3 separate regions of the Homo sapiens genome follow, and regions 2 and 3 are each linked to region 1. Evidence: fine-mapped expression QTL. A gene starts in region 1. Each other region holds a variant in brackets. All regions are shown on one strand. Distances are from middle to middle.

Region 1 (7,645 bases):
TTGTGTAAGACCTCAAAAGCATAGGCAACAAAGGCAAAAATAGACAAATGGAATTACATCAAACTAAAAAGCTTCCGCACAGCAAAGGAAACAACCAACAAAGTGAACAGACAACCCCACAGAATAGGAGAAAATACCACAACCTATCCACCTGACAAGGGATTAATAACCAGAATATACAAGGAGCTCCAACAACTTTATAGTAAAAACACAAATAATCCAGTTTAAAAATGGACAAAAGAGATCCGAATAAACATTTCTCAAAAGAAGACATAAAATTGCTAACAGGTATATAAAAGAATGTTAAACATCACTAATCATGAGAAAAATGCAAATCAAAAGCACAATGAGCTATCTTCTCACCACAGTTAAAATGACTTTTATCTGAAAAACAGGGAATAACAGATGCTGGCGAGGATTTGGAGAAAGGGGAATCATTGTACACTGTTGATGGGAATGTAAATTAGTACAACCACTATGGAGAACAGTATGGAGGCTCCTCAGAAAACTAAAAATAGAATTACCATATGATCCAGCAAATCCACTACTGGGTATATATCCCAAAGAAAAGGAATCAATATACTAAAGAGCTATCTGCATTCCCATGTTTACTGCAACAATATTCACAATATCCAAAATATGGAATCAACCTAAGTGGCCATCAATGGATGAATGGATAAAGAAATGTGGTGTATGTACATAACGGAATATTATTCAGTCATAAACAAGAATGAAATCCTGTCATTTGCAGCAATATGGGTGGAACTAGAGGCCATGATGTTAAGTAAATAAGCCAAGCACAAAAAGACAAATATTGCATATTCTCACTCATACGTGGGAGCTAAACAAAAAAACAAGTGGATTTCATGAAGATAGAGAGTAGATTGGTGGTAACCAGAGTTCAGAAAGAGTAGAGGTAGGGGTCTGAATAGAGGCTGGTTAAGGGGTATGTATTAGTCTTTTTTCACACTGCTATAAAAAAATGCCTGAGACTGGGTAATTTATAAAGAAAAGAGGTTTAATTGACTCACACTTCCACATGGCTGGGGAGGCCTCAGGAAACTTACAATCATGTTGGAAGAAGAAGCAGTCACCTTCTTCACAAGGTGGCAGGAGAGAGAAGAACAAAGGAGGAACTTCCAAACATATCTCACAAACCATCAGATCTTGTGAGAGCTCACTCACTGTCATGAGAACACCATGGGGGAAACTGCCCCTTGTGATCCAATCACCTCCCTCCCTCCACTTGTGGGAATTACAGGTCCCTCCCTCAACACGTGGGAATTACAATTCAAGATGAGATTTGGGTGGGGACACAGAGCCAAAACATACCAAGGTGTAATACACAGTTAGACAGAAAAAATAAGACCTGGTGTTCAATAAACCAGTAGGTTAGCTATGGTTAACATTAACCTACTGTACATTTCAAAATAGCCAGAAGAGAATCATTTGAATATTTCCGGCATACAGAAAAGACAAATACTTGGCGATAGATATCCCAATTTCCCTGCTTTGATCTTTACACATAATATTAATCAAATTATCACATGTACCCCCAAAATATGTGCATCTATTATATACCAATTTTTAAAATTAAGTTAAAAATTAAATTTTGGGTTTTGCATGTGAAAAAAGAGAGAATATGGGAGAAAAGAAATTGGAAACATCCCTTAGGGACAATTTTTTTAGGAGTTTTGCTGTAAAGCAAAGCAGAGAAATGAGGTAGTGGCTGGAGAGAAATAGGGTGCAAGGTAAGGGGTTTTATTTATTTTATGGACAATATTACAGTGTATTCATTAGTATGCTGATAATTCAGTACAGAATGAAAATCTTGAAATACAGAAGAGAGAGAAGGACCTCATTCATGAGAAAGCATTTAACATCCAGGGTGCAAAAGAATTTTCTCATATAGGAACTAGGGCCAGTGACTCAGAATGAAAAGTAGAGCATACAGTTTCTAATGCAGAGAGGAGGGCAGATGTGCCTGTGAGGCGGTATAGAAGTTCTCTTTACTCAGTAACAGAAAGCAAAGTCATCAGCACTCAGTGAGATGGGAGGAGTTGTTGGCGGCTTGAAAAGAGAGTAGAAGACCAGGCATGGTGGCTCAGCCTGTAATCCCAGCACTTTGGGAGGCTGAGGTGGGACGATCGCTTGATCCCAGGAGGTGGAGACCAGCCCGAACAACATGGTGAAACTTCATCTCTTAAAAAAAAAAATACAAAAATTAGCCTGGTGTGGTGGCGCAAGCCTATAGTCCCAGCTACTTAGGAGGCTGAGGTGGGAGGGTTGCTTGTGCCCAGGAAGCAGAGATTGCAGTCAGCCAAGATCGCACTACTGAACTCCAGCCTGGCTCAAAAAAATAAATAAATAAATAATGAAAAGAGAGTAGAACCTGTGAAATAGTCATTTAGGAGAATGGATGGACTAAGAAATGTAGAAGGATAGCCAGGCAGCGTGAAGGGCCCACTTGAACTTAATGGTTATAAACTGAAAATGAAACCAATCATCCCAGCCATGTGGTTTTCTCAAACAACCTCTGCCGTACAGGCGCAGGCCAGGAACTGGATTCAAGCAGATTTGGGTTTCCATCAAGAGAATAAAACCAAGAAAGACTGGGACAAGAGAGTTAAGGGTAACGGCACATACACAGGACTGGCCATAACCATGCTCCATGGCCTCTTAAATTGAGTGAGGAGAGAAGTGAGCACATGAGGAAGTGAAGGTCAGGGCAAGGGTGGTAAATCTAAATAGGGAAAAGCTCTGTGGTTTTCCAATGAAGAATGAGGAGAGGAGTAAGGTCCAAGGGAGACATTTTGTGTTCCCCAGGCAAAAGGTAAGACAGCATCTCTGAGGAGGAGACCGAAGGGGACGTGGGCCTCTCCAAGCATCGCAGGCTGAAAATAATAGTCCCCCAAATATGTCCATGTCCTAACCCCCAGAAGCTGTGGATGTTAATTTCTATGGCAAGAGGGATTTTTTTTGAAATGTGATTAAATTAAGGATCTTGACGTCAAGAGATTATCCCAGATTAGCCAGCTGGGCCTGATGTAATCACAACAGTCGTTATTAGAAGGACCCACGAGGAGCCAGTGCCTGAGCATGTGATGTGATGATGAAGGCAGAGGTTGCAGTCATGCACTTTGAAGATAAAGGAGCGAGCCATAAGCCAAGGAATGCAAATAGTCACTGGGAACTGGAAAAGGCAAAGAAATATTCTCATCTAGAACCTCCAGGAGGAACTAGCCCCACCAACACTGACTTTATAAAGCCCAGTAAAACTTGATTTCAGACTTGGCACCTCCAGAAGTTTAAGAGAATACATGTTTGTTATACTACTAAGTTTGTGTTAATTTGTTGTGACAGCAATTGGAAACTAATACACCAAGGAAGGGGGAGGATGTAGAAGAGAGGTCCAGGCAACATCTCTTTCCTCTCCAAAATAAATCTGAAAGAAAGGAATTGGGAAAAGACCAAATGGGTAGCTCTGTGTCACTCGGTGAGAAGTGAAATAAACGTAAAATCCTGGTATCAACAACCCTTGTGTGCGTTTAGGAGAGTTCTGACTGCTGGGAGCCACTTGTCTAATTCCCTCACCTCCTGTGTTTGTTCCAAGATCCCCTATTTAAAATTGCAAAGTACACCTCCAGTCCTACACACCCACAAACGCACCTCGCCACACCCCGCCCAGCTCTATGCTTTCAGTACCACCTCATGACACACACGACGCCATATATTTACTATATTTATGGATTGCTTGTTTCCCCAACTAGAATAGGGCAGTGACTTTTGTGCAAGCATCTTGAACAGCTCCTGGTACACAGTTGGCTCTCAATTAATATCTGTTAAATGGATGAACTTCAGAGGTGAGATGGAAGATGCCGAATGGCAAATATTCACTTCAGAATGTTTTGAAAGGTAAAGATGAAATTATGGGTATTTACATCCTTTTCCCCCAATAGTATTTTAACAAATGAAAATCACCTTAACAGGTATTCCTAAAATAATTCTTATTTGTTTGTAATAAAAAACGAGGAGGAGGACTTGAATACACGCGTCGCTGACTCAAAGATGGTCCCCTCCGCCCAAGAATCCCGCTCCGCACAGCGCAGAGTTCAGGGGCCCGCGCCGGAAGTGGGCGTGGTTCGCCCGCGGCTTGCTGGGACTTGTATTTCGGGGCCCTAGGCGCGCGAGCGGTCAGCATCCGGAATCTGGCCCCTGCAGGCGTGGGGTTCCACGTGGGAGGTGAGACTGGCCGGGCTTCCCCAGCCGCTGGCAGAGGCGTTCAGGGGTCAGGAAATGGGTGTGCCGCGGGTAAGGCGCTGGGCCGCCGAGCTGCGGAAGCCGGGAGGGCGGCGATGGTAGGGCACGCGACCAGCGGAGGCGCGGCCCGCGGCGGCACGTGTGTCCCGGCGCCGCATTTCCGAGCTGCTGCGCCCCCGGGGCCGGGCTGCGGCCACACCGAAGCCTGTGGGGCCCTGCAGCTGAGCGGCCGCGCCTCCGATGGCCCCTCCTCCCTCCTGGCCGAGCTCTGGCCTGGGCCGGCTGGGGGCTTCGTGGTTGGCCACGCCGGCCTTTTCCTCGCCTGTGACGGGCGTTATTGCAGGGGGGTTTTCGGTGGACGTTAGGCGACGGACGGGGGCTCCTGTAAGAGACTGAGGTTTCTGTCCGCAGCACTGCCTTCGCTGAAAAGAGCTTGCATCTGAGCCCCCGCACCGCAGGAACGAGCCAGGCTCCTGAGAATGAGGTCGGGGAAGGCGTCTTGGGCAACCGAAATCCATCCCGAGAAGCTTCTCCTCTTAACTAGAACTTTAGGACAGAGATCGGGAAAGTCAGAGGAAATGGGCACGGCTTCGAGCTGCCGGCGGCTGCGGAATTTACCTAGCCTCTTGGTTTTGGGGGGAAAACTTGGCTTGTTTAATCGAAAGCCCTGTGGAGAGAGATGAAGGTGGTGACAGAAAATGCTTCACCTCTCACCTGATGGAGGGAGTGTGGGTGGAAGTGACTGAAGAAGCGTCAGAGGCAGGAGCGGAGTAACTTTTTCCCCGCAGTCTTGCTGGACTTGATTTTCATGGCTTTTTCTCTTTCCCTAACTCTGCCTTTCCAGGAATCCATCCCCTCTGGGAGTAAGAAATGACCAGGGTCCGGGTGAGTTGGCGTTCCATTTCTCCTAAAATGCCATCTCCCTGAAATGTCCCTGTGCCATGTGTTGTTTTCTTTATTGTCAGGCCCCCAGTACGGTATTTTATAGCTATGGATGTAGGGACATTAAGATACTAAGGACATGTAGCTAGCAGATGATGTCACCAGGGTCTGCACAGAGAGTTTTCACTGGCCCATCCTGCCTCCAAGAATTTATTCCACTCCTCAGAGCAGTGGGCTGTGCCCTCCTGGGGAGCCTCTCAAAGCCTGCCTTTTCCTGCCAGACATTTCACTCACATTGAAAGTCATTCCAAGCTATTCCATACTCATCCCAGTGCTAAGTGGTCTCAGCAAAACAGATAGAATGATAAACCACGGTGCTTTTCTTCAAGGAGCTTACCATCTTGATGAACATATTATATTACCTGTACACAAAAAAATGCATATTAATAGTGATAATTTATTAACTATGAGTCAAAAACGAGGAAATTCGTTAAATGGCAGCACAGTGGTTACAAAATCACTCTAGAAATGCTTTTCAACTAGGCTATGCATCAGAACTCTCTGTGGTGTTTTTTAAGAACTAAGCTTCCTTCTCTCTTCCAGACCTAGTGAAAGGAGAGTTTCACTCCTTTTTTATTCTGTTGATCTTTGTACATCCAAAGGTTTATTGTGAAATATCTCTCTATACACTATAAGTGTCTCTAGGGTAGGTAAAATGAGTTATTCATCCTTTATACTCAGGTTGATTTGTTCTCTTTCACTAGCATGTCTACATATTTAACTGTTCCAGTAAATTTTAAATTACCAAGTCGTACTTTTTTAAAGAGAGTTTTCAGTTGTCCCCATAAAACCATCTGTAGGAGGTTACCTCAAAATTAACCCTTAGACTCCCAGGGTATTTGAGATGGTCAGCCCCCACTTAGAATCCCATGGTGTTTGAGATGGTCGGCCCCCTCTTTGCCCTGTCCTGGCGTTTTATGGTGGAGAGCTCTAACTCGGCTAACTCTGAGAGAGCCGAAGGAAAGTGCCTTGTCCTTTGTTTCAGAGAGCAGAAGGCCAGAAATAAACCCCGTGTTTTCTTCCTTCAGGCTGTTCTTTCTCCATTAACTAAACAGGTCATCACATCAGAAGTTGTTTGAATAAAATATCAGACTGCGTTTTAAGGGAAAAAAAATGTTTTTTAACACTACCAGCAAAGGCCATCTTTTTGCTTGGCAAATACAGCCCTCACACACATGAGCTCTTAGAAAAAATCTGTTTAGAGGACAGTAAGCTGACTTGAGGTACTGAGAGCATGGCTTCTCTGTGCCCTGAAAAGTAATTGAGGACTTCAAGGGAGATTAACCTTAGTAGAATCAATACATTTTCCTTCCTTCGCTTCTGCCTGCTCCCTAATGATTAAGTATTCACTGCCGCTGCAACTGGGGATTGCCAGTTTAGTAAATTTTGAGATTCTGGTGTGTGTTACACAACAACTTTTTTAATTTAAAGGAAGGACTTCATTCCAAGCATTGTGTGTTTTCTATGTACCACACATTGTCCTTAGGTCTGCTGAAAGGCGGGAGTCTTAGTTAACCCTGCTTTTCCTCTGTGACATTGGGTAAGTCACTTCGCCCTTATGAACTGTGGTTTTTTTCTCTGTAAACTGAGGGTCTTGGGCTTGACCATCTTTATGTTTTCTTTTAGTTGTATTATTATTCATTTAAATTGAATGTGAATTTATATTTATCTTTCAGATTCCAAGTCAATTGTGGTAGTTGCTGGGGATTTAAAGATGAGTTGAGGCCAGACATGGTGGCTCACACCTGTAATCCCAGTACTTTGGGAGACTGAGTGGGGAGGATCACCTGAGGTCAGGAGTTGAGACCAGCCTGGCCAACATAGTGAAACCTCATCTCTACTAAAAATACAAAAATTAGCTGGTCATGTTGATGCCTGTTGTAATCCCAGCTACTCGGGAGGCTGAGGCAGGAGAATCTCTTGAACCCGGGAGGTGGAGGTTGTAGTGAGCTGAGATCATGCCACTGCACTCCAGCCTGGGCAACAGAGTGAGACTCTGTTTCAAACAACAAAGATGAGTTGAGTGTAGCCCCTATCCTTCAGAATCTTCCAGCCAACTTGGGAGAGACTTAATAGCTATAGTAGAGGGATGTGAAAGATGCTATGAGATCTCAGAGGAGGAGAATTCTAACTCATCCTCATGCTTCAGAAAGAGGCTATTGTCCTGAGACTGAAAGCTCCAAAATGGATGGGAGAACTCAATAAGTTAGGGCTTACTATAGAAAGGACTGTGCTAGACTCAAGTGTAATGTGTTGAATGACTCCAGGTAATCTAGTGTGCCTCTTCCTGCTTTTCCACTTCAAAGTAAATTGTTAGATACAGCAGAGATGGGCTCTAGAAAGAAGTGGAAGGCCACATGATGGCATGTATGTAGTTCTGAGGAGGTCGACATTTGTCTGATAGAAACAGGAAACAATTGAACTTGTGACCTTCCTCTTTGGT
Region 2 (7,645 bases), 33 kb after region 1:
AAGCATTGATGACTCTTTGTACTCCAAAAGCAAACCTCAGTTACTTGCAATTTTTAGAAGCTCTGTTTATGCAAATGTTTATAAAAATAAGGGACAGCAATCATTAAACTACTTCACAGATTCACCTCAACACTTAAAGAGTACTTGGCATGTAGGAAAACGTGTCCTTTGTGCTGTGGAAACTATGGTGACCACTCCTGTCTTCACAATAAAATAGAGATTGATTAAATAATGAACAATGCAACTATGGATTTTTTTTTTTTGAGAAAAGGTCTGGATCTGTCACCCAGGCTGCAGTGCAGTGGCGTGATCATATCTCACTGCAAACTGAAACTCCTAGACTCCAGTGATCCTCCTGCCTCAGCCTCCCAAAGCACTGGGATTACAGTGCCACTGTGCCTGGCCTCACCCATGGAATTATAAATGGATATAGCATCCATGAAGATCATTATGGGGCACAATGAAAGTATGTAAGATTGTAGTAAGAAGGTGGGTGGCACAAGACATTTTAGCATCTTTTGACACAGCATTTGGATACCAGAATGTTTGAAAACATTTAGAAATGTAAACACACTTATCAGAATTATACCAATACCAGTGAATTTGCTTTGAAAGAGGATTTTCTGCAGCAAAACAGTGACGCCTATTTTATTTTATTTTATTTTATTGTTTTATTTTATTCTATTTTTTGAGACAAAGTTTTGCTCTTTCGCCCAGGCTGGAGTGAAGTGGCGTGATCTCATCTCACTACAACCTCCACCTCCTGGGTTGAAGCGATTCTCCTGCCTCAGCCTCCCGAGTAGCTGGGATTACAGGCGCCTGCCTCCACGCCCAGTTTATTTTTGTATTTTTAGTAGAGACGGGGTTTCACCATGTTGGCCAGGCTGGTCTTGAACTCCTGACCTCAGACAATCCACCCACATCAGCCTCCCAAAGTTCTGGGATTACAGTGAGCCACAGTGCCCTGCTGCCTCTTTTTTTTTGTTTGTTTGTTTGTTTTTTTAGTATTTATTGATCATTCTTGGGTGTTTCTCAGAGAGGGGGATGTGGCAGGGTCATAGGATAATAGTGGAGAGAAGGTCAGCAGATAAACACGTGAACAAAGGTCTCTGGTTTTCCTAGGCAGAGGACCCTGCGGCCTTCTGCAGTGTTTGTGTCCCTGGGTACTTGAGATTAGGGAGTGGTGATGACTCTTAACGAGCATGCTGCCTTCAAGCATCTGTTTAACAAAGCACATCTTGCACCGCCCTTAATCCATTTAACCCTGAGTGGACACAGCACATGTTTCAGAGAGCACGGGGTTGGGGGTAAGGTAATAGATTAACAGCATCCCAAGGCAGAAGAATTTCTCTTAGTACAGAACAAAATGGAGTCTCCTATGTCTACTTCTTTCTACACAGACACAGTAACAATCTGATCTCTCTTTCTTTTCCCCACATTTCCCCCTTTTCTTTTCGACAAAACCGCCATCGTCATCATGGCCCGTTCTTGATGGTCGCTGTCTCTTTGGAGCTGTTGGGTACACCTGCAGAAAGGCTGTCACTTCACACTTGGAAGATTGCACAGCAGCCAGGCAGAGGCGCTTCTCACTCCCCAGACGGGGCAGCCGGGCAGAGGCGCTCCTCACTCCCCAGACAGGGCAGCCAGGCAGAGGCGCTCCTCACCTCCCAGACTATGGGTGGCAGGGCAGAGGTGCTCCTCACTTCCCAGATGATGGGCAGCCGGGCAGAGGTGCTCCTCACTTCCCAGATGATGGGCAGCCGGGCAGAGGCGCTCCTCACTTCCCAGACGGGGCGGCCGGGCAGAGGCACTCCTCACCTCCCAGATGCCTCTTTTATTCTTAAGTGAATTTTCAATTCTGCATAATTTAATCTTTTCCAATTTTTCTAATATTATCTTTGCATAAATTATTATAACCTGTATCAATTATTTTCTATATAAATTTCACATGATGTGATCTGTCAATCAGGTGTTTATTTGTATAATGCAATGAATTTATGTGTATGATGTTCTCTTCTAGCTCTAAAAAAAAAAAAAAAAAAAGAAGCCAGGTGTGGTGGCTCACTCCTGTAATCCCAGCACTTTGGGAGGCCAAGGCGGGTGGATCACGAGATCAGGAGGTCAAGACCATCCTGGCTAACACGATGAAACGCTGTCTCTACTAAAAATACAAAAAATTAGCCGGGCGTGGTGGTGGGCACCTGTAATCCCAGCTACCTGGGAGTCTGAGGCAGGAGAATGGCGTGAACCCAGGAGGCAGAGATTGCAGTGAGCCGAGATTGTGCCACTGCACTCCAGCCTGGGGGACAGAGCAAGACTCTGTCTCAAAAATAAATGAATAAATAAAAATAAAAATAAATTAGCCAAGCATAGTAGTGGGCTCCTGTAATCCCAGCTACTCTGGAGGCTGAGGCAGAGAATTGCTTGAACCTGGGAGGTGGAGGTTGCAGTGAGCCGAGATCACACCACTGCTCTCCAGCCTGGATGACATAGCGAGACTCCGTCTCAAAAAAAAAAAAAAAGAAGAGAGAGAGACCTAAGATGATGTTTCCTCCTCCAGAGGAATTTTTCTTGCTGCTAACGGGGGACACACTCCTTGATATCTTTAAAGGAATTTCGTGTTAGGTGCAGTGCCTCATGCCTATAATCCCAACACTTTGGGAGGCCAAGGCAGGAGGATTGCTTGAGTCAAAGAGTTTGAGACCAGCCTGGGCAACTGGACAACAGACCCTATCTCTACAAAAAAAAAAAAAAAAAAAAAAATTCCTGGGCATGGTGGCACATGCCTGTAGTCCCAGCTATTTGGGAGGATCATTTGAGCCCAGGAAGTTGAGAATGCAGTGAGCCATGATCACACCACTGCACTCCAGCCTGGGCAACAGAGCAAGACCATATCTCAAAAAAAAAAATAAAAATAAAAGGAGATTTCAGGGCTGAAGAATGTTCTGGGCTTTCCAAACATCTTGAAGTCCACTGCAATTTGTGGGAAGGCTGATTTTCTTTTTGTTCATGCTACCTGTACAGAATCTTCCAAGGGTCCGGTCAAGGCAGAGGTATCCTGGTCCATCTCATCCATGGGCCACAGAGGTCTCTTTCTGCCCCATCATCCCTGCAACACCCTTAAAAGCAAACCTCAGCCTATTACCTCTCTCAGGTCAGCCTGAGTCTCCAGAGCAAAGGCAGCCTCATACGTTGTGCTGACATGGAATTCCCATTCTTTTTACATCATACCCCAGTGATCACTGTCTTATTATTTATGTGCTTAGAAAGAATGTTGAAAGTATTTTTATTTTTTTCGAGACAGAGTCTCACTCTGTCACCCAGGCTGTAGTGCATTGATGCATCTTGGCCCACTGCAACATCCACCTCCTGGGTTCAAGTGATTCTCATGCCTCAGCCTCCCCAGTAGCTGGGATTACAGGCATGTGCCACAAAGCCTGGCTATTTTTTGTATTTTTGGTAGAGATGGGGTTTCACCATGTTGGCCAACCTGGTCTCAAACTCCTGACCTCATGTGATCCGCCTGCCTCGGCCTCCCAAAGTGCTGATATTACAGGCAAGAGCCACTGCACCCAGCCTAAAATATTTTTTTCAGCTTTGTCCATTTTCTTTATTACACAGGTTGATCAAAATTATCTTGTCTACTTTTAATGGAATAATCCCCTACACGAGCAAAAGCAGAAGTTGTCTAAATGTCAAAATATAGGATATGGGTAAACCCAAATGCAGTTTTGAAAAGTGGAAAAATATTTGGCCATTAAGCATATTTTCAAGATAGAATGGGGCATGGAAAGAGTTCACAGCATATCACAAAATTTTAAATG[C/T]AAGTTACACAAGAACATTGGCTGGGTACAGTGGCTCACCCCTGTAATCCTAGCACTTTGGGAGGCTGAGCCAGGTGGATCACTTGAGGTCGGGAGTTTGAGACCAGCATGGCCAACATGGTGAAACCCTGTCTCTACCAACTCTACTAAAAATACAAAAATTAGCCGGGCATGGTGGTGAGCACCTGTAATCCCAGCTACTTGGGAGGCTTAGGCAGGAGAATCGCGTGAACCCAGAGGGCAGAGGTTGCAGTGAACCGAGACCACACCAATACACTCCAGCCTGGGCACTGGGCAACAGAGCAAGACTCTGTCTCAAAAAAGAAAGAATATTTAAGACATGATCTCATTTTTTTATAAGTATACATATACCCTAAAATCTAAACTGAAGTGTAAGAAACAAAGAAAAATTCAATCAATACAAAACAATTACTTGGGCCAGGCACAGTGGTTTGTGCCAGTAATCCCAGCACTTTGTGAGGCTGAAGCAGGAGGATCACTTGAGGCCAGGAGTTCAAGACCAGCCTGGCCAACATGGTGAAACCCCGTCTCTACTAAAAATACAAAAATTAGCTGGGTGTGATGGTGCAGACCTATAATCCCAGCTACTCAAGAGGCTGAGGCATGAGAATCATTTGACTCCAGGAAACTCATCACAGCCTTGACCTCCGCAGCTCAAGTGATCCTCCCACCTCAGCCTTCCAGTATGATTGCTTGGTGCTAGCACAGCCTTGTTAATCCTGAGCCCAGGGCCACTGTGTTAGCCCATTATCGCATTGCCATAAAGGAACAGCTGAGGCTGGTAATTTATGAAAAGAGGCTTACTTGGCTCATGGTTCTGCAGGCTGTACAGGAAGCATGGTGCCAGCATCTGCTCAGCTTCTGCTGAGGGCTTCAGGAAGCTTCCAATGATGCTGGAAGGCAAAGGGTGAGCCAGTGCATCACATGGCAAGAGAGGAAGAAGAGAGACCTGAGGAAGGAGGGGCCAAACTCTTTAAAACAACCGGCACTCAGCTCTCCAGAGAACTGACCAAGAACTCACTCATCACCAAGGGAATGGTGCTAAGCCATTCATGAGGGATCCGCCCCCATGATCCAGTACCTCACTAGGCCCGACCTCTGACAGTGGAGGTCATATTTCAACATGAAATGTGGAGGGGACACACATCCTGACCATATCAGCCATGAACCCAGGAACTATCAATGCTGAGGAAGACATGAGGGCCCTAACACTCCACGGAGACTGAGTGTGGTTCCTAATCTCTCTCAATTTCCCTTTCTCTTTAACAGAATGTTACTCTGAGACCACAGAACATGATGGCACCCAGGCGCTAAGCTGTACTTGTGCAGCCTTAACATCTGAGCTCCCTCTCCTGGACCCACTGAGCACGAGGCAGGGGGCACACATTAGACAAGTAATAATGGTTTGTTCAAGGCTTAGTTCCACTCTTCCAGATATAGATAATTCTACCCACTTATAGATGAAGAGATAGAGGCTCCAATGGGAGGAGAAAAGGCTGAGTAATTGGGGCCTGAAAGGCTCATTTTAAGCTTTTGTTATGGACTGAATGTTTGCGTCTCCTATGTTGAAGTCATAATCCCCAATACAGCTGTATTTGGAGATTCTGCCTCCAAATTACATCCTCAATTAAGGATGCAACTAAGGTAAAATGAGGTCATAAGGGTGGCATCCGGCTCTGATAGGATTGGTATCCTTATAGGGAGAGACATCAGGGAGCTCTCTGTCTCTCTCTCTCTCTGCACTGAAGCACCAAAGAAAGGCTATGTGAGACCAGGCACAGTGGCTCACACCCAAAATCCAGCACTTTGGAAGGCTGAGGCAGGTGGATGGCTTGAGGCTAGGAGTTCAAGACTAGCCTGCCCAACATGAAGAAACCCCCTCTCTAATAAAAATACAAAAATTAGCTAGGTGTGGTGGCACATGCCTATAATCCCATTACTCAGGAGGTTGAGGCAAGAGAATCACTTGAACCTGGGAAGCAGAGTTGCAGTGAGTCAAGATTGTGCCACTGCACTGCAGCCTGGGTGACAGAGCAAGACTCTTTTTTTTTTTTTTTTTTTGAGATGGAGTCTCACTCTGTCACCCATGCTGGAGTGCAGTGGTGCGATCTCAGCTCACTGCAAGCTCCACCTCCCAGGTTCATGCCATTCTCCTGCCTCAGCCTCCCGAGTAGCTGGGATTACAGGCATCCACCACCACACCTGGCTAATTTTTTTTGTATTTTTAGTAGAGATGGGATTTCACCATGTCAGCCAGGATGGTCTCAATCTCCTGACATCGTGATCCACCCACCTCAGCCTCCCAAAGTGCTGGGATTACAGGCATGAGCCACCGCACCCAGCCAAGATTCTGTCTTAAAACAAGAAAGAAAGAGAGAGAGAGAGAAAGAAGAAAGAAAGAGAGAGAAGGAAGGAAAGAAGGAAGGAAGGAAGGAAGGAAAAAAGGAAAGAAGGCAAAGAGACAAAGAGGAGGCTCATGCATGTAATCCCAGCACTTTGGGAGGCTGAGGCAGGTGGATCACCTGAAGTCAGGAGCTCCAGACCAGCCTGGCCAACACAGTGAAACCCTGTCTATATTAAAAATACAAAAATTAGTTGGGCATGATGGCTCACGCCTGTAATCCCAGCTACTCAGAAGGCTGAGGCAGGAGAATTGCTTGAACCTGGGAGGTGGAAGTTGTGGTGAGCCAAGATGGCACCACTACACTCCAGCCTGTGAGACAGAGCAAGACTCTGAAAAAAAGAAAGAGAAGAGAAGAGAAGGAGGGGAAGGAAGGGAAGGAGAGAGAAAGAAAGAAGAAAGAGAGAGAAAAAAGAGAAAGAAAGAAAAGAAAGAAGGAAGGAAAAATATCGGGGGAAACAGCCCCCAATATTTCAATGTAGATTCTTTCTATTTTCCATAAGTGATGGCTGGCTGAGAAATAAAGGAAAGAGTACAAAGAGAGGAATTTTACAGCTGGGCCTCTGGGGGTGATATCACATATCGATAGGACTGTGATGTCCACTTGAGCCACAAAACCAGCAAGTTTTTATTAAGGATTTCAAAAGGGGAGGGGGTGTACGAATAGGGAGTAGGTCACAAAGATCACATGCTTCAAAGGACAAAAGGCAGAATAAAGATCACATGCTTTTGAGGAAACAGGACAAGGGCAAAATCAGAACTACTGATAAGGATCTATGTTCAGCTGTGCACATATTGTCTTGATAAACATCTTAAACAAAAGAAAACAGGGTTCAAGAGCAGAGAACCAGTCTGACCACAAATTTACCATGGTGGAGTTTCCCAATCCTAGTAAGCCTGAGGGTACTGCAGGAGACCAGGGCGTATTTCAGTCCTTATCTCAGAGACTGCCTAAGACAGACACTCCGAGAGCGGCCACTTATAGTCCTCCCGCAAGGAAGGCATTCCTTCCCCAGGGTATTATTTATTAATATTTCTTGCTAGGAAAATAATTTAGTGATATCTTCCCTACTTGCACATCCTTTTATAGGCTCTCTGAAAGATGAAAAATATGGCTCTATTTTGCCTGACCCCACAGGCAGTCAGACCTTATGGTTGTCTTCCCTTGTTCCCTGAAAATCACTGTTATTCTGTTTTTTTCAAGGTGCACTGATTTCATATTGTTCAAACACACGTTTTACAATCAATTTGTACAGTTAACAAAATTATCACAATAGTCCTGAGGTGACGTATGTTCTCAGCTTATGAAGATAACAGGATTAAGAGATTAAAGACAGGCATAAGAAATTATAAAAGTATTATTGGGGAATTGATAAATGTCCATATTAAAATGAAATCT
Region 3 (7,645 bases), 45 kb after region 1:
GCTCCCAGCATGATCAACGCAGAAGACGGGTGATTTCTGCATTTCCAACTGAGGTACCTGGTTCATCTCATTGGGACTGGTTGGACAGTGGGTGCAGTCCACAGAGGGTGAGCTAAAGCAGGGCAGGGTGTTGCCTCACCCGGGAAGCAAAAGGGGTCAGGGGATTTCCCTTTCCTAGCCAAAGGAAGCTGTGACAGACTACCTGGAAAAATGGGGCACTCTCACCTAAATACTGCACTTTTCCCAAGGTCTTAGCAACCGGCAGATATGGTGATTGTCTCCCGTGCCTGGTTTGGCAGGTCCCACGCCCACAGAGCCTTGCTCACTGCTAAGGCAGCAGTCTGAGATTGATCTGTGAGGCAGCAGCCTGGCTGGGGGAGGGGCGTCTGCCATTGCTGAGGCTTGAGTTGGTAAACAAAGTGGCCCGGAAGCTCAAACCGGGCACAGCCCACCACAGCTCAACAAGGCCTATTGCCTCTAGGCTCCATCTCTGTGCGCAAGGCGTAGCTGCACAAAAGGCAGCAGAAACTTCTGCAGACTTAAACGTCCCTGTCTGACAGCTGTGAAGAGAGCAGTGGTTCTCCCAGCACAGTGTTTGAGTTCTGAGAACGGACAGACTGCCTCCTCAAGTGGGTCCCTCACCCCCATGTAGCCTAACTGGGAGACACCTCACAGTAGGGGCCAACAGACACTTCGTATAGGTGGCTGCCCCTCTGGGACAAAGCTTCCAGAGGAAGGATCAGGCAACAATATTTGCTGTTCTGCAATATTTGCTGTTCTGCAGCCTCCACTGGTGATACCTAGGCAAACAGGGTCTGGAGTGGAACTCCAGCAAACACCAACAGACCTGCAGCTGAGGGACCTGACTGTTAGAAGGAAAACTAACAAACAGAAAGGAATAGCATCAACATCAACAAAAAGGTCATCTACACCAAAACCCCATCTGTAGGTCACCATCATCAAAGATCAAAGGTAGATAAAACCACAAAGATGCAGAGAAACTAGAACAGAAAAGCTAAAAATTCTAAAAATCAGAGTGCTTCTTCTCCTCCAAAGGATTGTGGCTCCTCGCCAGCAATGGAAAAAAGCTGGATGGAGAATGACTTTGACGAGTTGACAGAAGTAGGCTTCAGAAGGTCGGTAATAACAAACTTCTCGGAGCTAAAGGAGGATGTTCAAACCCATCGCAAGGAAGCTAAAAACGTTAAAAAAAAAATTAGACAAATGGCTAACTAGAATAAACAGTGTAGAGAAGACCTTAAATAACCTGATGGAGTTGAAAACCATGGCACGAGAACTTCGTGACGCATGCACAAGCTTCAATAGCCAATTCAATCAAGTGGAAGAAAGGGTATCAATGATTGAAGATCAAATTAATGAAATAAAGCAAGAAGACAAGGTTAGAGAAAAAAGACTAAAAAGAAACGAACAAAGCCTCCAAGAAATATGGGACTATGTGAAAAGACCAAATCTACATCTGATTGGTGTACATGAAAGTGACAAGGAGAATGGAACCAAGTTGGAAAACACTATTCAGGATATTATCCAGGAGAACTTCCCCAACCTAGCAAGGCAGACCAACATTCAAATTCAGGAAATAAAGAGAACACCACAAAGATACTCCGCGAGAAGAGCAACCCCAAGACACATAATTGTCAGATTCACCAAGATTGAAACAAACGAAAAGATGTTAAGGCAGCCAGAGAGAAAGGTCGAGTTACCCACAAAGGGAAGCCCATCAGAGAACAGACCTCTCGGCAGAAACCCTGCAAGCCAGAAGAGAGTGGGGGCCAATATTCAACATTCTTAAAGAAAAGAATTTTCAACCCAGAATTTCATATCCATCTAAGCTTCATAAGTGAAGGAGAAATAAAATCCTTTACAGACAAGCAAATGCTGAGAGATTTTGTCACCACCAGGCCTGCCTTACAAATGCTCCTGAAGGAAGCACTAAACATAGAAAGAAACAACCAGTACCAGCCACTGCAAAAACATGCCAAATTGTAAAGACCATCGATGCTATGAAGAAACTACATCAATTAATGGGCAAAATAACCAGCTAACATCATAATGACAGGATCAAATTCACACATAACAATATTAACCTTAGATGTAAATGGGCTAAATGCTCCAATTAAAAGACACAGACTGGCAAATTGGATAAAGAGTCAAGACCCATCAGTGTGCTGTATTCAGGAGACCCATCTCATGTGCAGAGACACATATAGGCTCAAAATAAAGGGATGGAGGAGATCTACCAAGCAAATGGAAAACAAAAAAAGGCAGGGGTTACAATCCTAGTCTCTGATAAAACAGACTTTAAACCAACAAAGATCAAAAGAGACAAAGAACCCCATTACATAATGGTAAAGGGATCAATTAAACAAGAAAAGCTAACTATCCTAAATATATGTGCACCCAATACAGGAGCATCCACATTCATAAAGCAAGACCTTAGAGACCTACAAAGAGACTTAGACTCCCACACAATAATAATGGGAGACTTTAACACCCCTCTGTCAATATTAGACAGATCAACAAGACAAAAGGTTAACAAGGATATGCAGGACCTGAACTCAGCTCTGCAACAAGCAGACCTAATAGACATCTACAGAACTCTCCAGCCCAAAGCAGCAGAATATACATTCTTCTCATCACCACATAGCACTTATTCTAAAAGTGACCACATAATTGGAAGTACAGCACTCCTCAGCAAATGTAAAAGAAATCACAACAAACTGTGTCTCAGATCACAGTGCAATCAAATTAGAACTCAGGATTAAGAAACTCACTCAAAACCACACAACTACATGGAAACTAAACAACTTGCCCTGGAATGACTACTGGGTAAATAACGAAATGAAGGCAGAAATAAAGATGTTCTTTGAAACCAATGAGAACAAAGACACAACATATCAGAATCTCTAGGACACATTTAAAGCAGTGTGTAGAGGGAAATTTACAGCACTAAATGCCCACAAGAGAAAGCAGGAAAGATCTAAAATCAACACCCTAACATCGCAATTAAAACAATCAGAGAAGCAAGAGCAAACAAATTCAAAAGGTAGCAGAAGGCAAGAAATAACTAAGATCAGAGCAGAACTGAAAAATATAGAGATACAAAAATACCCTTCAAAAAAATCAATGAATCCAGGAGCTGGTTTTTTTTAAAAGAGCAACAAAATCGATAGACCACTAGCAAGACTAATAAAGAAGAAAAGAGAAAAGAATCAAATAGACACAATAAAAAATGATAAAGGGGATATCACCACTGATCTAACAGAAATACAAACTACCACCAGAGAATACTATAAACACCTCTATGCAAATAAACTAGAAAATCTAGAAGAAATGGATAAATTCCTGGACACATACACTCTCCCAAGACTAAACCGGGAAGAAGTTGAATCTCTGAATAGACCAATAACAGGCTCTCAAATTGAGGCAATAATTAATAGCCTACCAACCAAAAAAAGTCCAGGACCAGACGGATTCACAGCTGAATTCTACCACAGCTAGAAAGACGAGCTGGTACCATTCCTTCTGAAACTATTCCAATCAATAGAAAAAGAGGGAATCCTCCCTAACTCATTTTATGAGGCCAGCATCATCCTGATACCAAAGCCTGGCAGAGACACAACAAAAAAAGAGAATTTTAGACCAATATCCCTGATGAACATCAATGCAAAAATCCTCAATAAAATACTGGCAAACTGAATCCAGTAGCACATTAAAAAGCTTATCCACCACGATCAAGTGGGCTTTATCCCTGGGATGCAAGGCTGGTTCAATATATGCAAATCAATAAACATAATCCATCACATAAACAGAACCAACAACAAAAAACCACATGATTATCTCAATAGATGCAGAAAAGGCCT[T/C]TGACAAAATTCAACAGCCCTTCATGCTAAAAACTCTCAATAAACTAGGTGTTGATGGAACATATCTCAAAATGATAAGAGCTATTTATGACAAACCCACAGCCAATATCATACTTAATGGGCAAAAACTGGAAGCATTCCCTTTGAAAACCAGCACAAGACAGGGATGCCCTCTCTCACCACTCCTATTCAACATAGTGTTGGAAGTTCTGGCCAGGGCAATCAGGCAAGAGAAAGAAAAAAAGGGTATTCAATTAGGATAAGAGGAAATCAAATTGTCCCTGTTTGCAGATGACATTATTGTATATTTAGAAAACCCCATCATCTCAGCCCAAAATTTCCTTAAGCTGATAAGCAACTTCAGCAAAGTCTCAGGACACAAAATCAATGTGCAAAAATCACAAGCATTCCTATACACCAATAACAGACAAACAGAGAGCCAAATTATGAGTGAACTCCTATTCACAATTGCTACAAAGACAATAAAATACCTAGGAATCCAACTTACAAGGGATGTGAAGGACCCCTTCAAGGAGAACTACAAACCACTGCTCAACAAAATAAGAGGACACAAACAAATGGAAGAATATTCCATGCTCATGGATAGGAAGAATCAATATTGTGAAAATGGCCATAATGCCCAAAGTAATTTATAGATTCAATGCCATCCCCATCAAGCTACCAATGACTTTCTTCACAGAATTAGAAAAAACTACTTTAAAGTTCATATAGAACCAAAAAAGAGCCCGCATTGCCAAGACAATCCTAAGCAAAAAAAACAAAGCTGGAGGCATCAAGCTACCTGACTTCAAACTATACTACAAGGCTACAGTAACCAAAACAGCATGGTACTGGTATCAAAACAGATATGTAGACCAATGGAACAGAACAGAGCCCTCAGAAATAACACCACACATCTACAACCATCTGATCTTTGACAAACCTGACAAAAACAAGAAATGGGGAAAGGATTCCCTATTTAATAAATGGTGCTGGGAAAACTGGCTAGCCATATGTAGAAAGCAGAAACTGGATCCCTTCCTTACACCTTATACAAAAATTAATTCAAGATGGATTAAAGACTTAAATGTTAGACCTAAAACCATAAAAAACCCTAGAAGAAAACCTAGGCAATGCCATTCAGGACATTGGCATGGGCAAGGACTTCATGACTAAAACACCAAAAGCAATGGCAACAAAAGCCAAAATTGACAAATGGGATCTAATTAAACTAAAGAGCTTCTGCACAGCAAAAGAAACTACCATCAGAGTGAACAGGCAACCTACAGAATGGGAGAAAATTTTTGCAATCTACCCATCTGATAAAGGGCTAATATCCAGAATCTACAAAGAAGTCAAACAAATTTACAAGAAAAAAAACAAACAACCCCATCAAAAAGTGGGCAAAGGATATGAACAGACACTTCTCAAAAGAAGACATCTGTCTGGGTGCGGTGGCTCATGGCTGTCATCCCAGCACTTTGGGAGGCTGAGGCGGGTGGATCACGAGGTCTGGAGATCGAGACCATCCTGGCTAACATGGTGAAACCCTGTCTCTACTAAAAATACAAAACAAAAAAAATTAGCTGGGCATGGTGGCAAGCGCCGGAGGCTAAGGCAGAAGAATGGCATGAACCCGGGAGGCAGAGCTTGCAGTGAGCCAAGATCACGCCACTGCACTCGAGCCTGGGCAACAGAGCAAGACTCCGTCTCAAAAAAAAAAAAAAAAAGAAGACATCTATGCAGCCAACAGACACATGAAAAAATGCTCATCACCACTGGTCATCAGAGAAATACAAATCAAAACCACAATGAGATACCATTCTTGCCAGTTAGAATGGCAATCATTAAAAAGTCGGGAAACAACAGATGCTGGAGAGGATGTGGAGAAATAGGAACACTTTTACACTGTTGGTGGGAGTGTAAATTAGTTCAAACATTGTGGAAGACAGTGTGGCGATTCCTCAAGGATCTTGAACTAGAATTACCATACGACCCAGCAATCCCATTACTGGGTATATACACCCAAAGGATTATAAATCATGCTACTATAAAGACATATGCACACATATGTTTATTGTGGCACTATTCACAATAATAAAGACTTGGAACCAACCCAAATGTCCATCAATGATAGACTGGATTAAGAAAATTTGGCACATGTACACCATGGAATACTATGCAACCATAAAAAATGATGAGTTCATGTCCTTTGCAGGGACATGGATGAAGCTGGAAACCATCATTCTCAAAAAACTATCACAAGGACAGAAAAGCAAACACCACATGTTCTCACTCATGGGTGGGAATTGAACAATGAGATCACTTGGACACAGGAAGGGGAACATCACACACCAGGGCCTGTCAGGGGATGGGGGGCTGGGGGAGGGATAGCATTAGGAGAAATACCTAATGTAAATGATGAGTTGATGGATGCAGCAAACCAACATGGCACATGTATACCTATGCATCAAACCTGCACATTGTGCACATGTACCCTAGAACTTAAAGTATAATAAAAAAAAAAAAGAAGAAATCCACTACAGAAGGAACCAAGGAATTTAAGCATCAAAATTCCCACCTGCCCCCCACCATTTTTTTGTGAGCCCAGGATGGCTTTGAACTCCCAGGCTCGAGCAATCCTCCCCAGTCAGCCTCCAGATAATTACAGGCATGAGCTACCAAGCCTGGTTCATCTTCTCTGATTTTTCTCAATGTCACTTGAGTCTTTTGTGGCCCACACTAGTTAGGGGAATAGCCTGATCATCTGGCCAGATCTAAACTGAAATATCTGATGAGGCAGCTATATTTGGAGGGGCTGACCTGAGATATAGAAGATTAAGATCTGGTACTGAGGATTCAGGCTTGTAAGGGAAAGCTTCGAATGCAAATTATATGCACCCTAATTTTTTTTAACCGATTCTTTCTTCTGGTTATAATTTACTTTTTTTGGAGATTGCATATATTTACACTTATTTGCTAGGTGCTTGTATTTCTTTTCTGAATTGCCTTTTCATCTTGATGGTGTATTTTTTGTTCAGTCACTTAGAATAAAAATTCAAGTGTGAAGAAAGAAAAATACTTTAAGGCTTAGAAATGTAACCTTTTGCTTTATTTTAGAAATTTTTATTTATATGATTATGCATTTCCTAGATACTAGTTCTTTCTGTTCAAGGCCATTTACTCCAACACCCAAGTGGATTTCTTGATTGCAGATTTATTACTATAGGATGTATTTGGGTAGAATTATTTCTTCCCATTATACTGGCCTTATTCACACTTCTGTGCTTTAACACAATGAAAAATTGCTTTAACATTGAAGTTCTGTATTGAGTCCCACAAGATATTATTCCCTTACAGCGCTTGTATTGTAAGCTGCAAACTGAACATTTGAAAAATCAAAATGAAAGCATGTAGCATAAAGGTCTGCCTTTTTTTTTTTTTTTTTTTTGAGACAGAGTCTCACTCTGTCGCCCAGGCTGGAGTGCAGCAGAGCGATCTCGGCTCACTGCAAGCTCCGCCTCCCAGGTTCACGCCATTCTCCTGCCTCAGCCTCCTGAGTAGCTGGGACTACAGGGACCCGCCACCACGCCTGGCTAATTTTTTTTGTACTTTTAGTAGAGACAGGGTTTCACCGTGTTAACCAGAATGGTCTCGATATCCTGACCTCGTGATCTGCCCACCTCGGCCTCCCAAAGTGCTGGGATTACAGGCGTGAGCCACGGCGCCCAGCCAAATGTCTGCCTTTGAAGGATAATGGCGTG

Evidence for each region. PIP is the estimated chance that this variant, and not a neighbour inherited with it, causes the effect. A credible set is the group of variants that fine-mapping cannot tell apart.
Region 2: its variant is the best candidate, but not a certain one, in a credible set for the expression of ZNF239 in whole blood (TOPMed, PIP 0.66).
Region 3: its variant is the best candidate, but not a certain one, in a credible set for the expression of ZNF239 in whole blood (INTERVAL, PIP 0.73).

Annotation. Positions count from the first base shown.
Region 1 is chr10:43,571,137-43,578,781 of GRCh38, reverse strand. ZNF239 (zinc finger protein 239) reads left to right here and starts at 4,166. Exons shown (of 4, transcript NM_001099282.2): 1 at 4,166-4,242; 2 at 5,105-5,145. RefSeq lists a silencer at 4,384-4,443.
Region 2 is chr10:43,538,000-43,545,644 of GRCh38, reverse strand. No RefSeq gene overlaps it. Among named protein-coding and RNA genes, the nearest start is that of ZNF239, 33 kb to the left of the region's middle. RefSeq lists an enhancer at 938-1,451. The variant C/T (reference allele first, on the strand shown) is at 3,825.
Region 3 is chr10:43,525,933-43,533,577 of GRCh38, reverse strand. No RefSeq gene overlaps it. Among named protein-coding and RNA genes, the nearest start is that of ZNF239, 45 kb to the left of the region's middle. The variant T/C (reference allele first, on the strand shown) is at 3,882.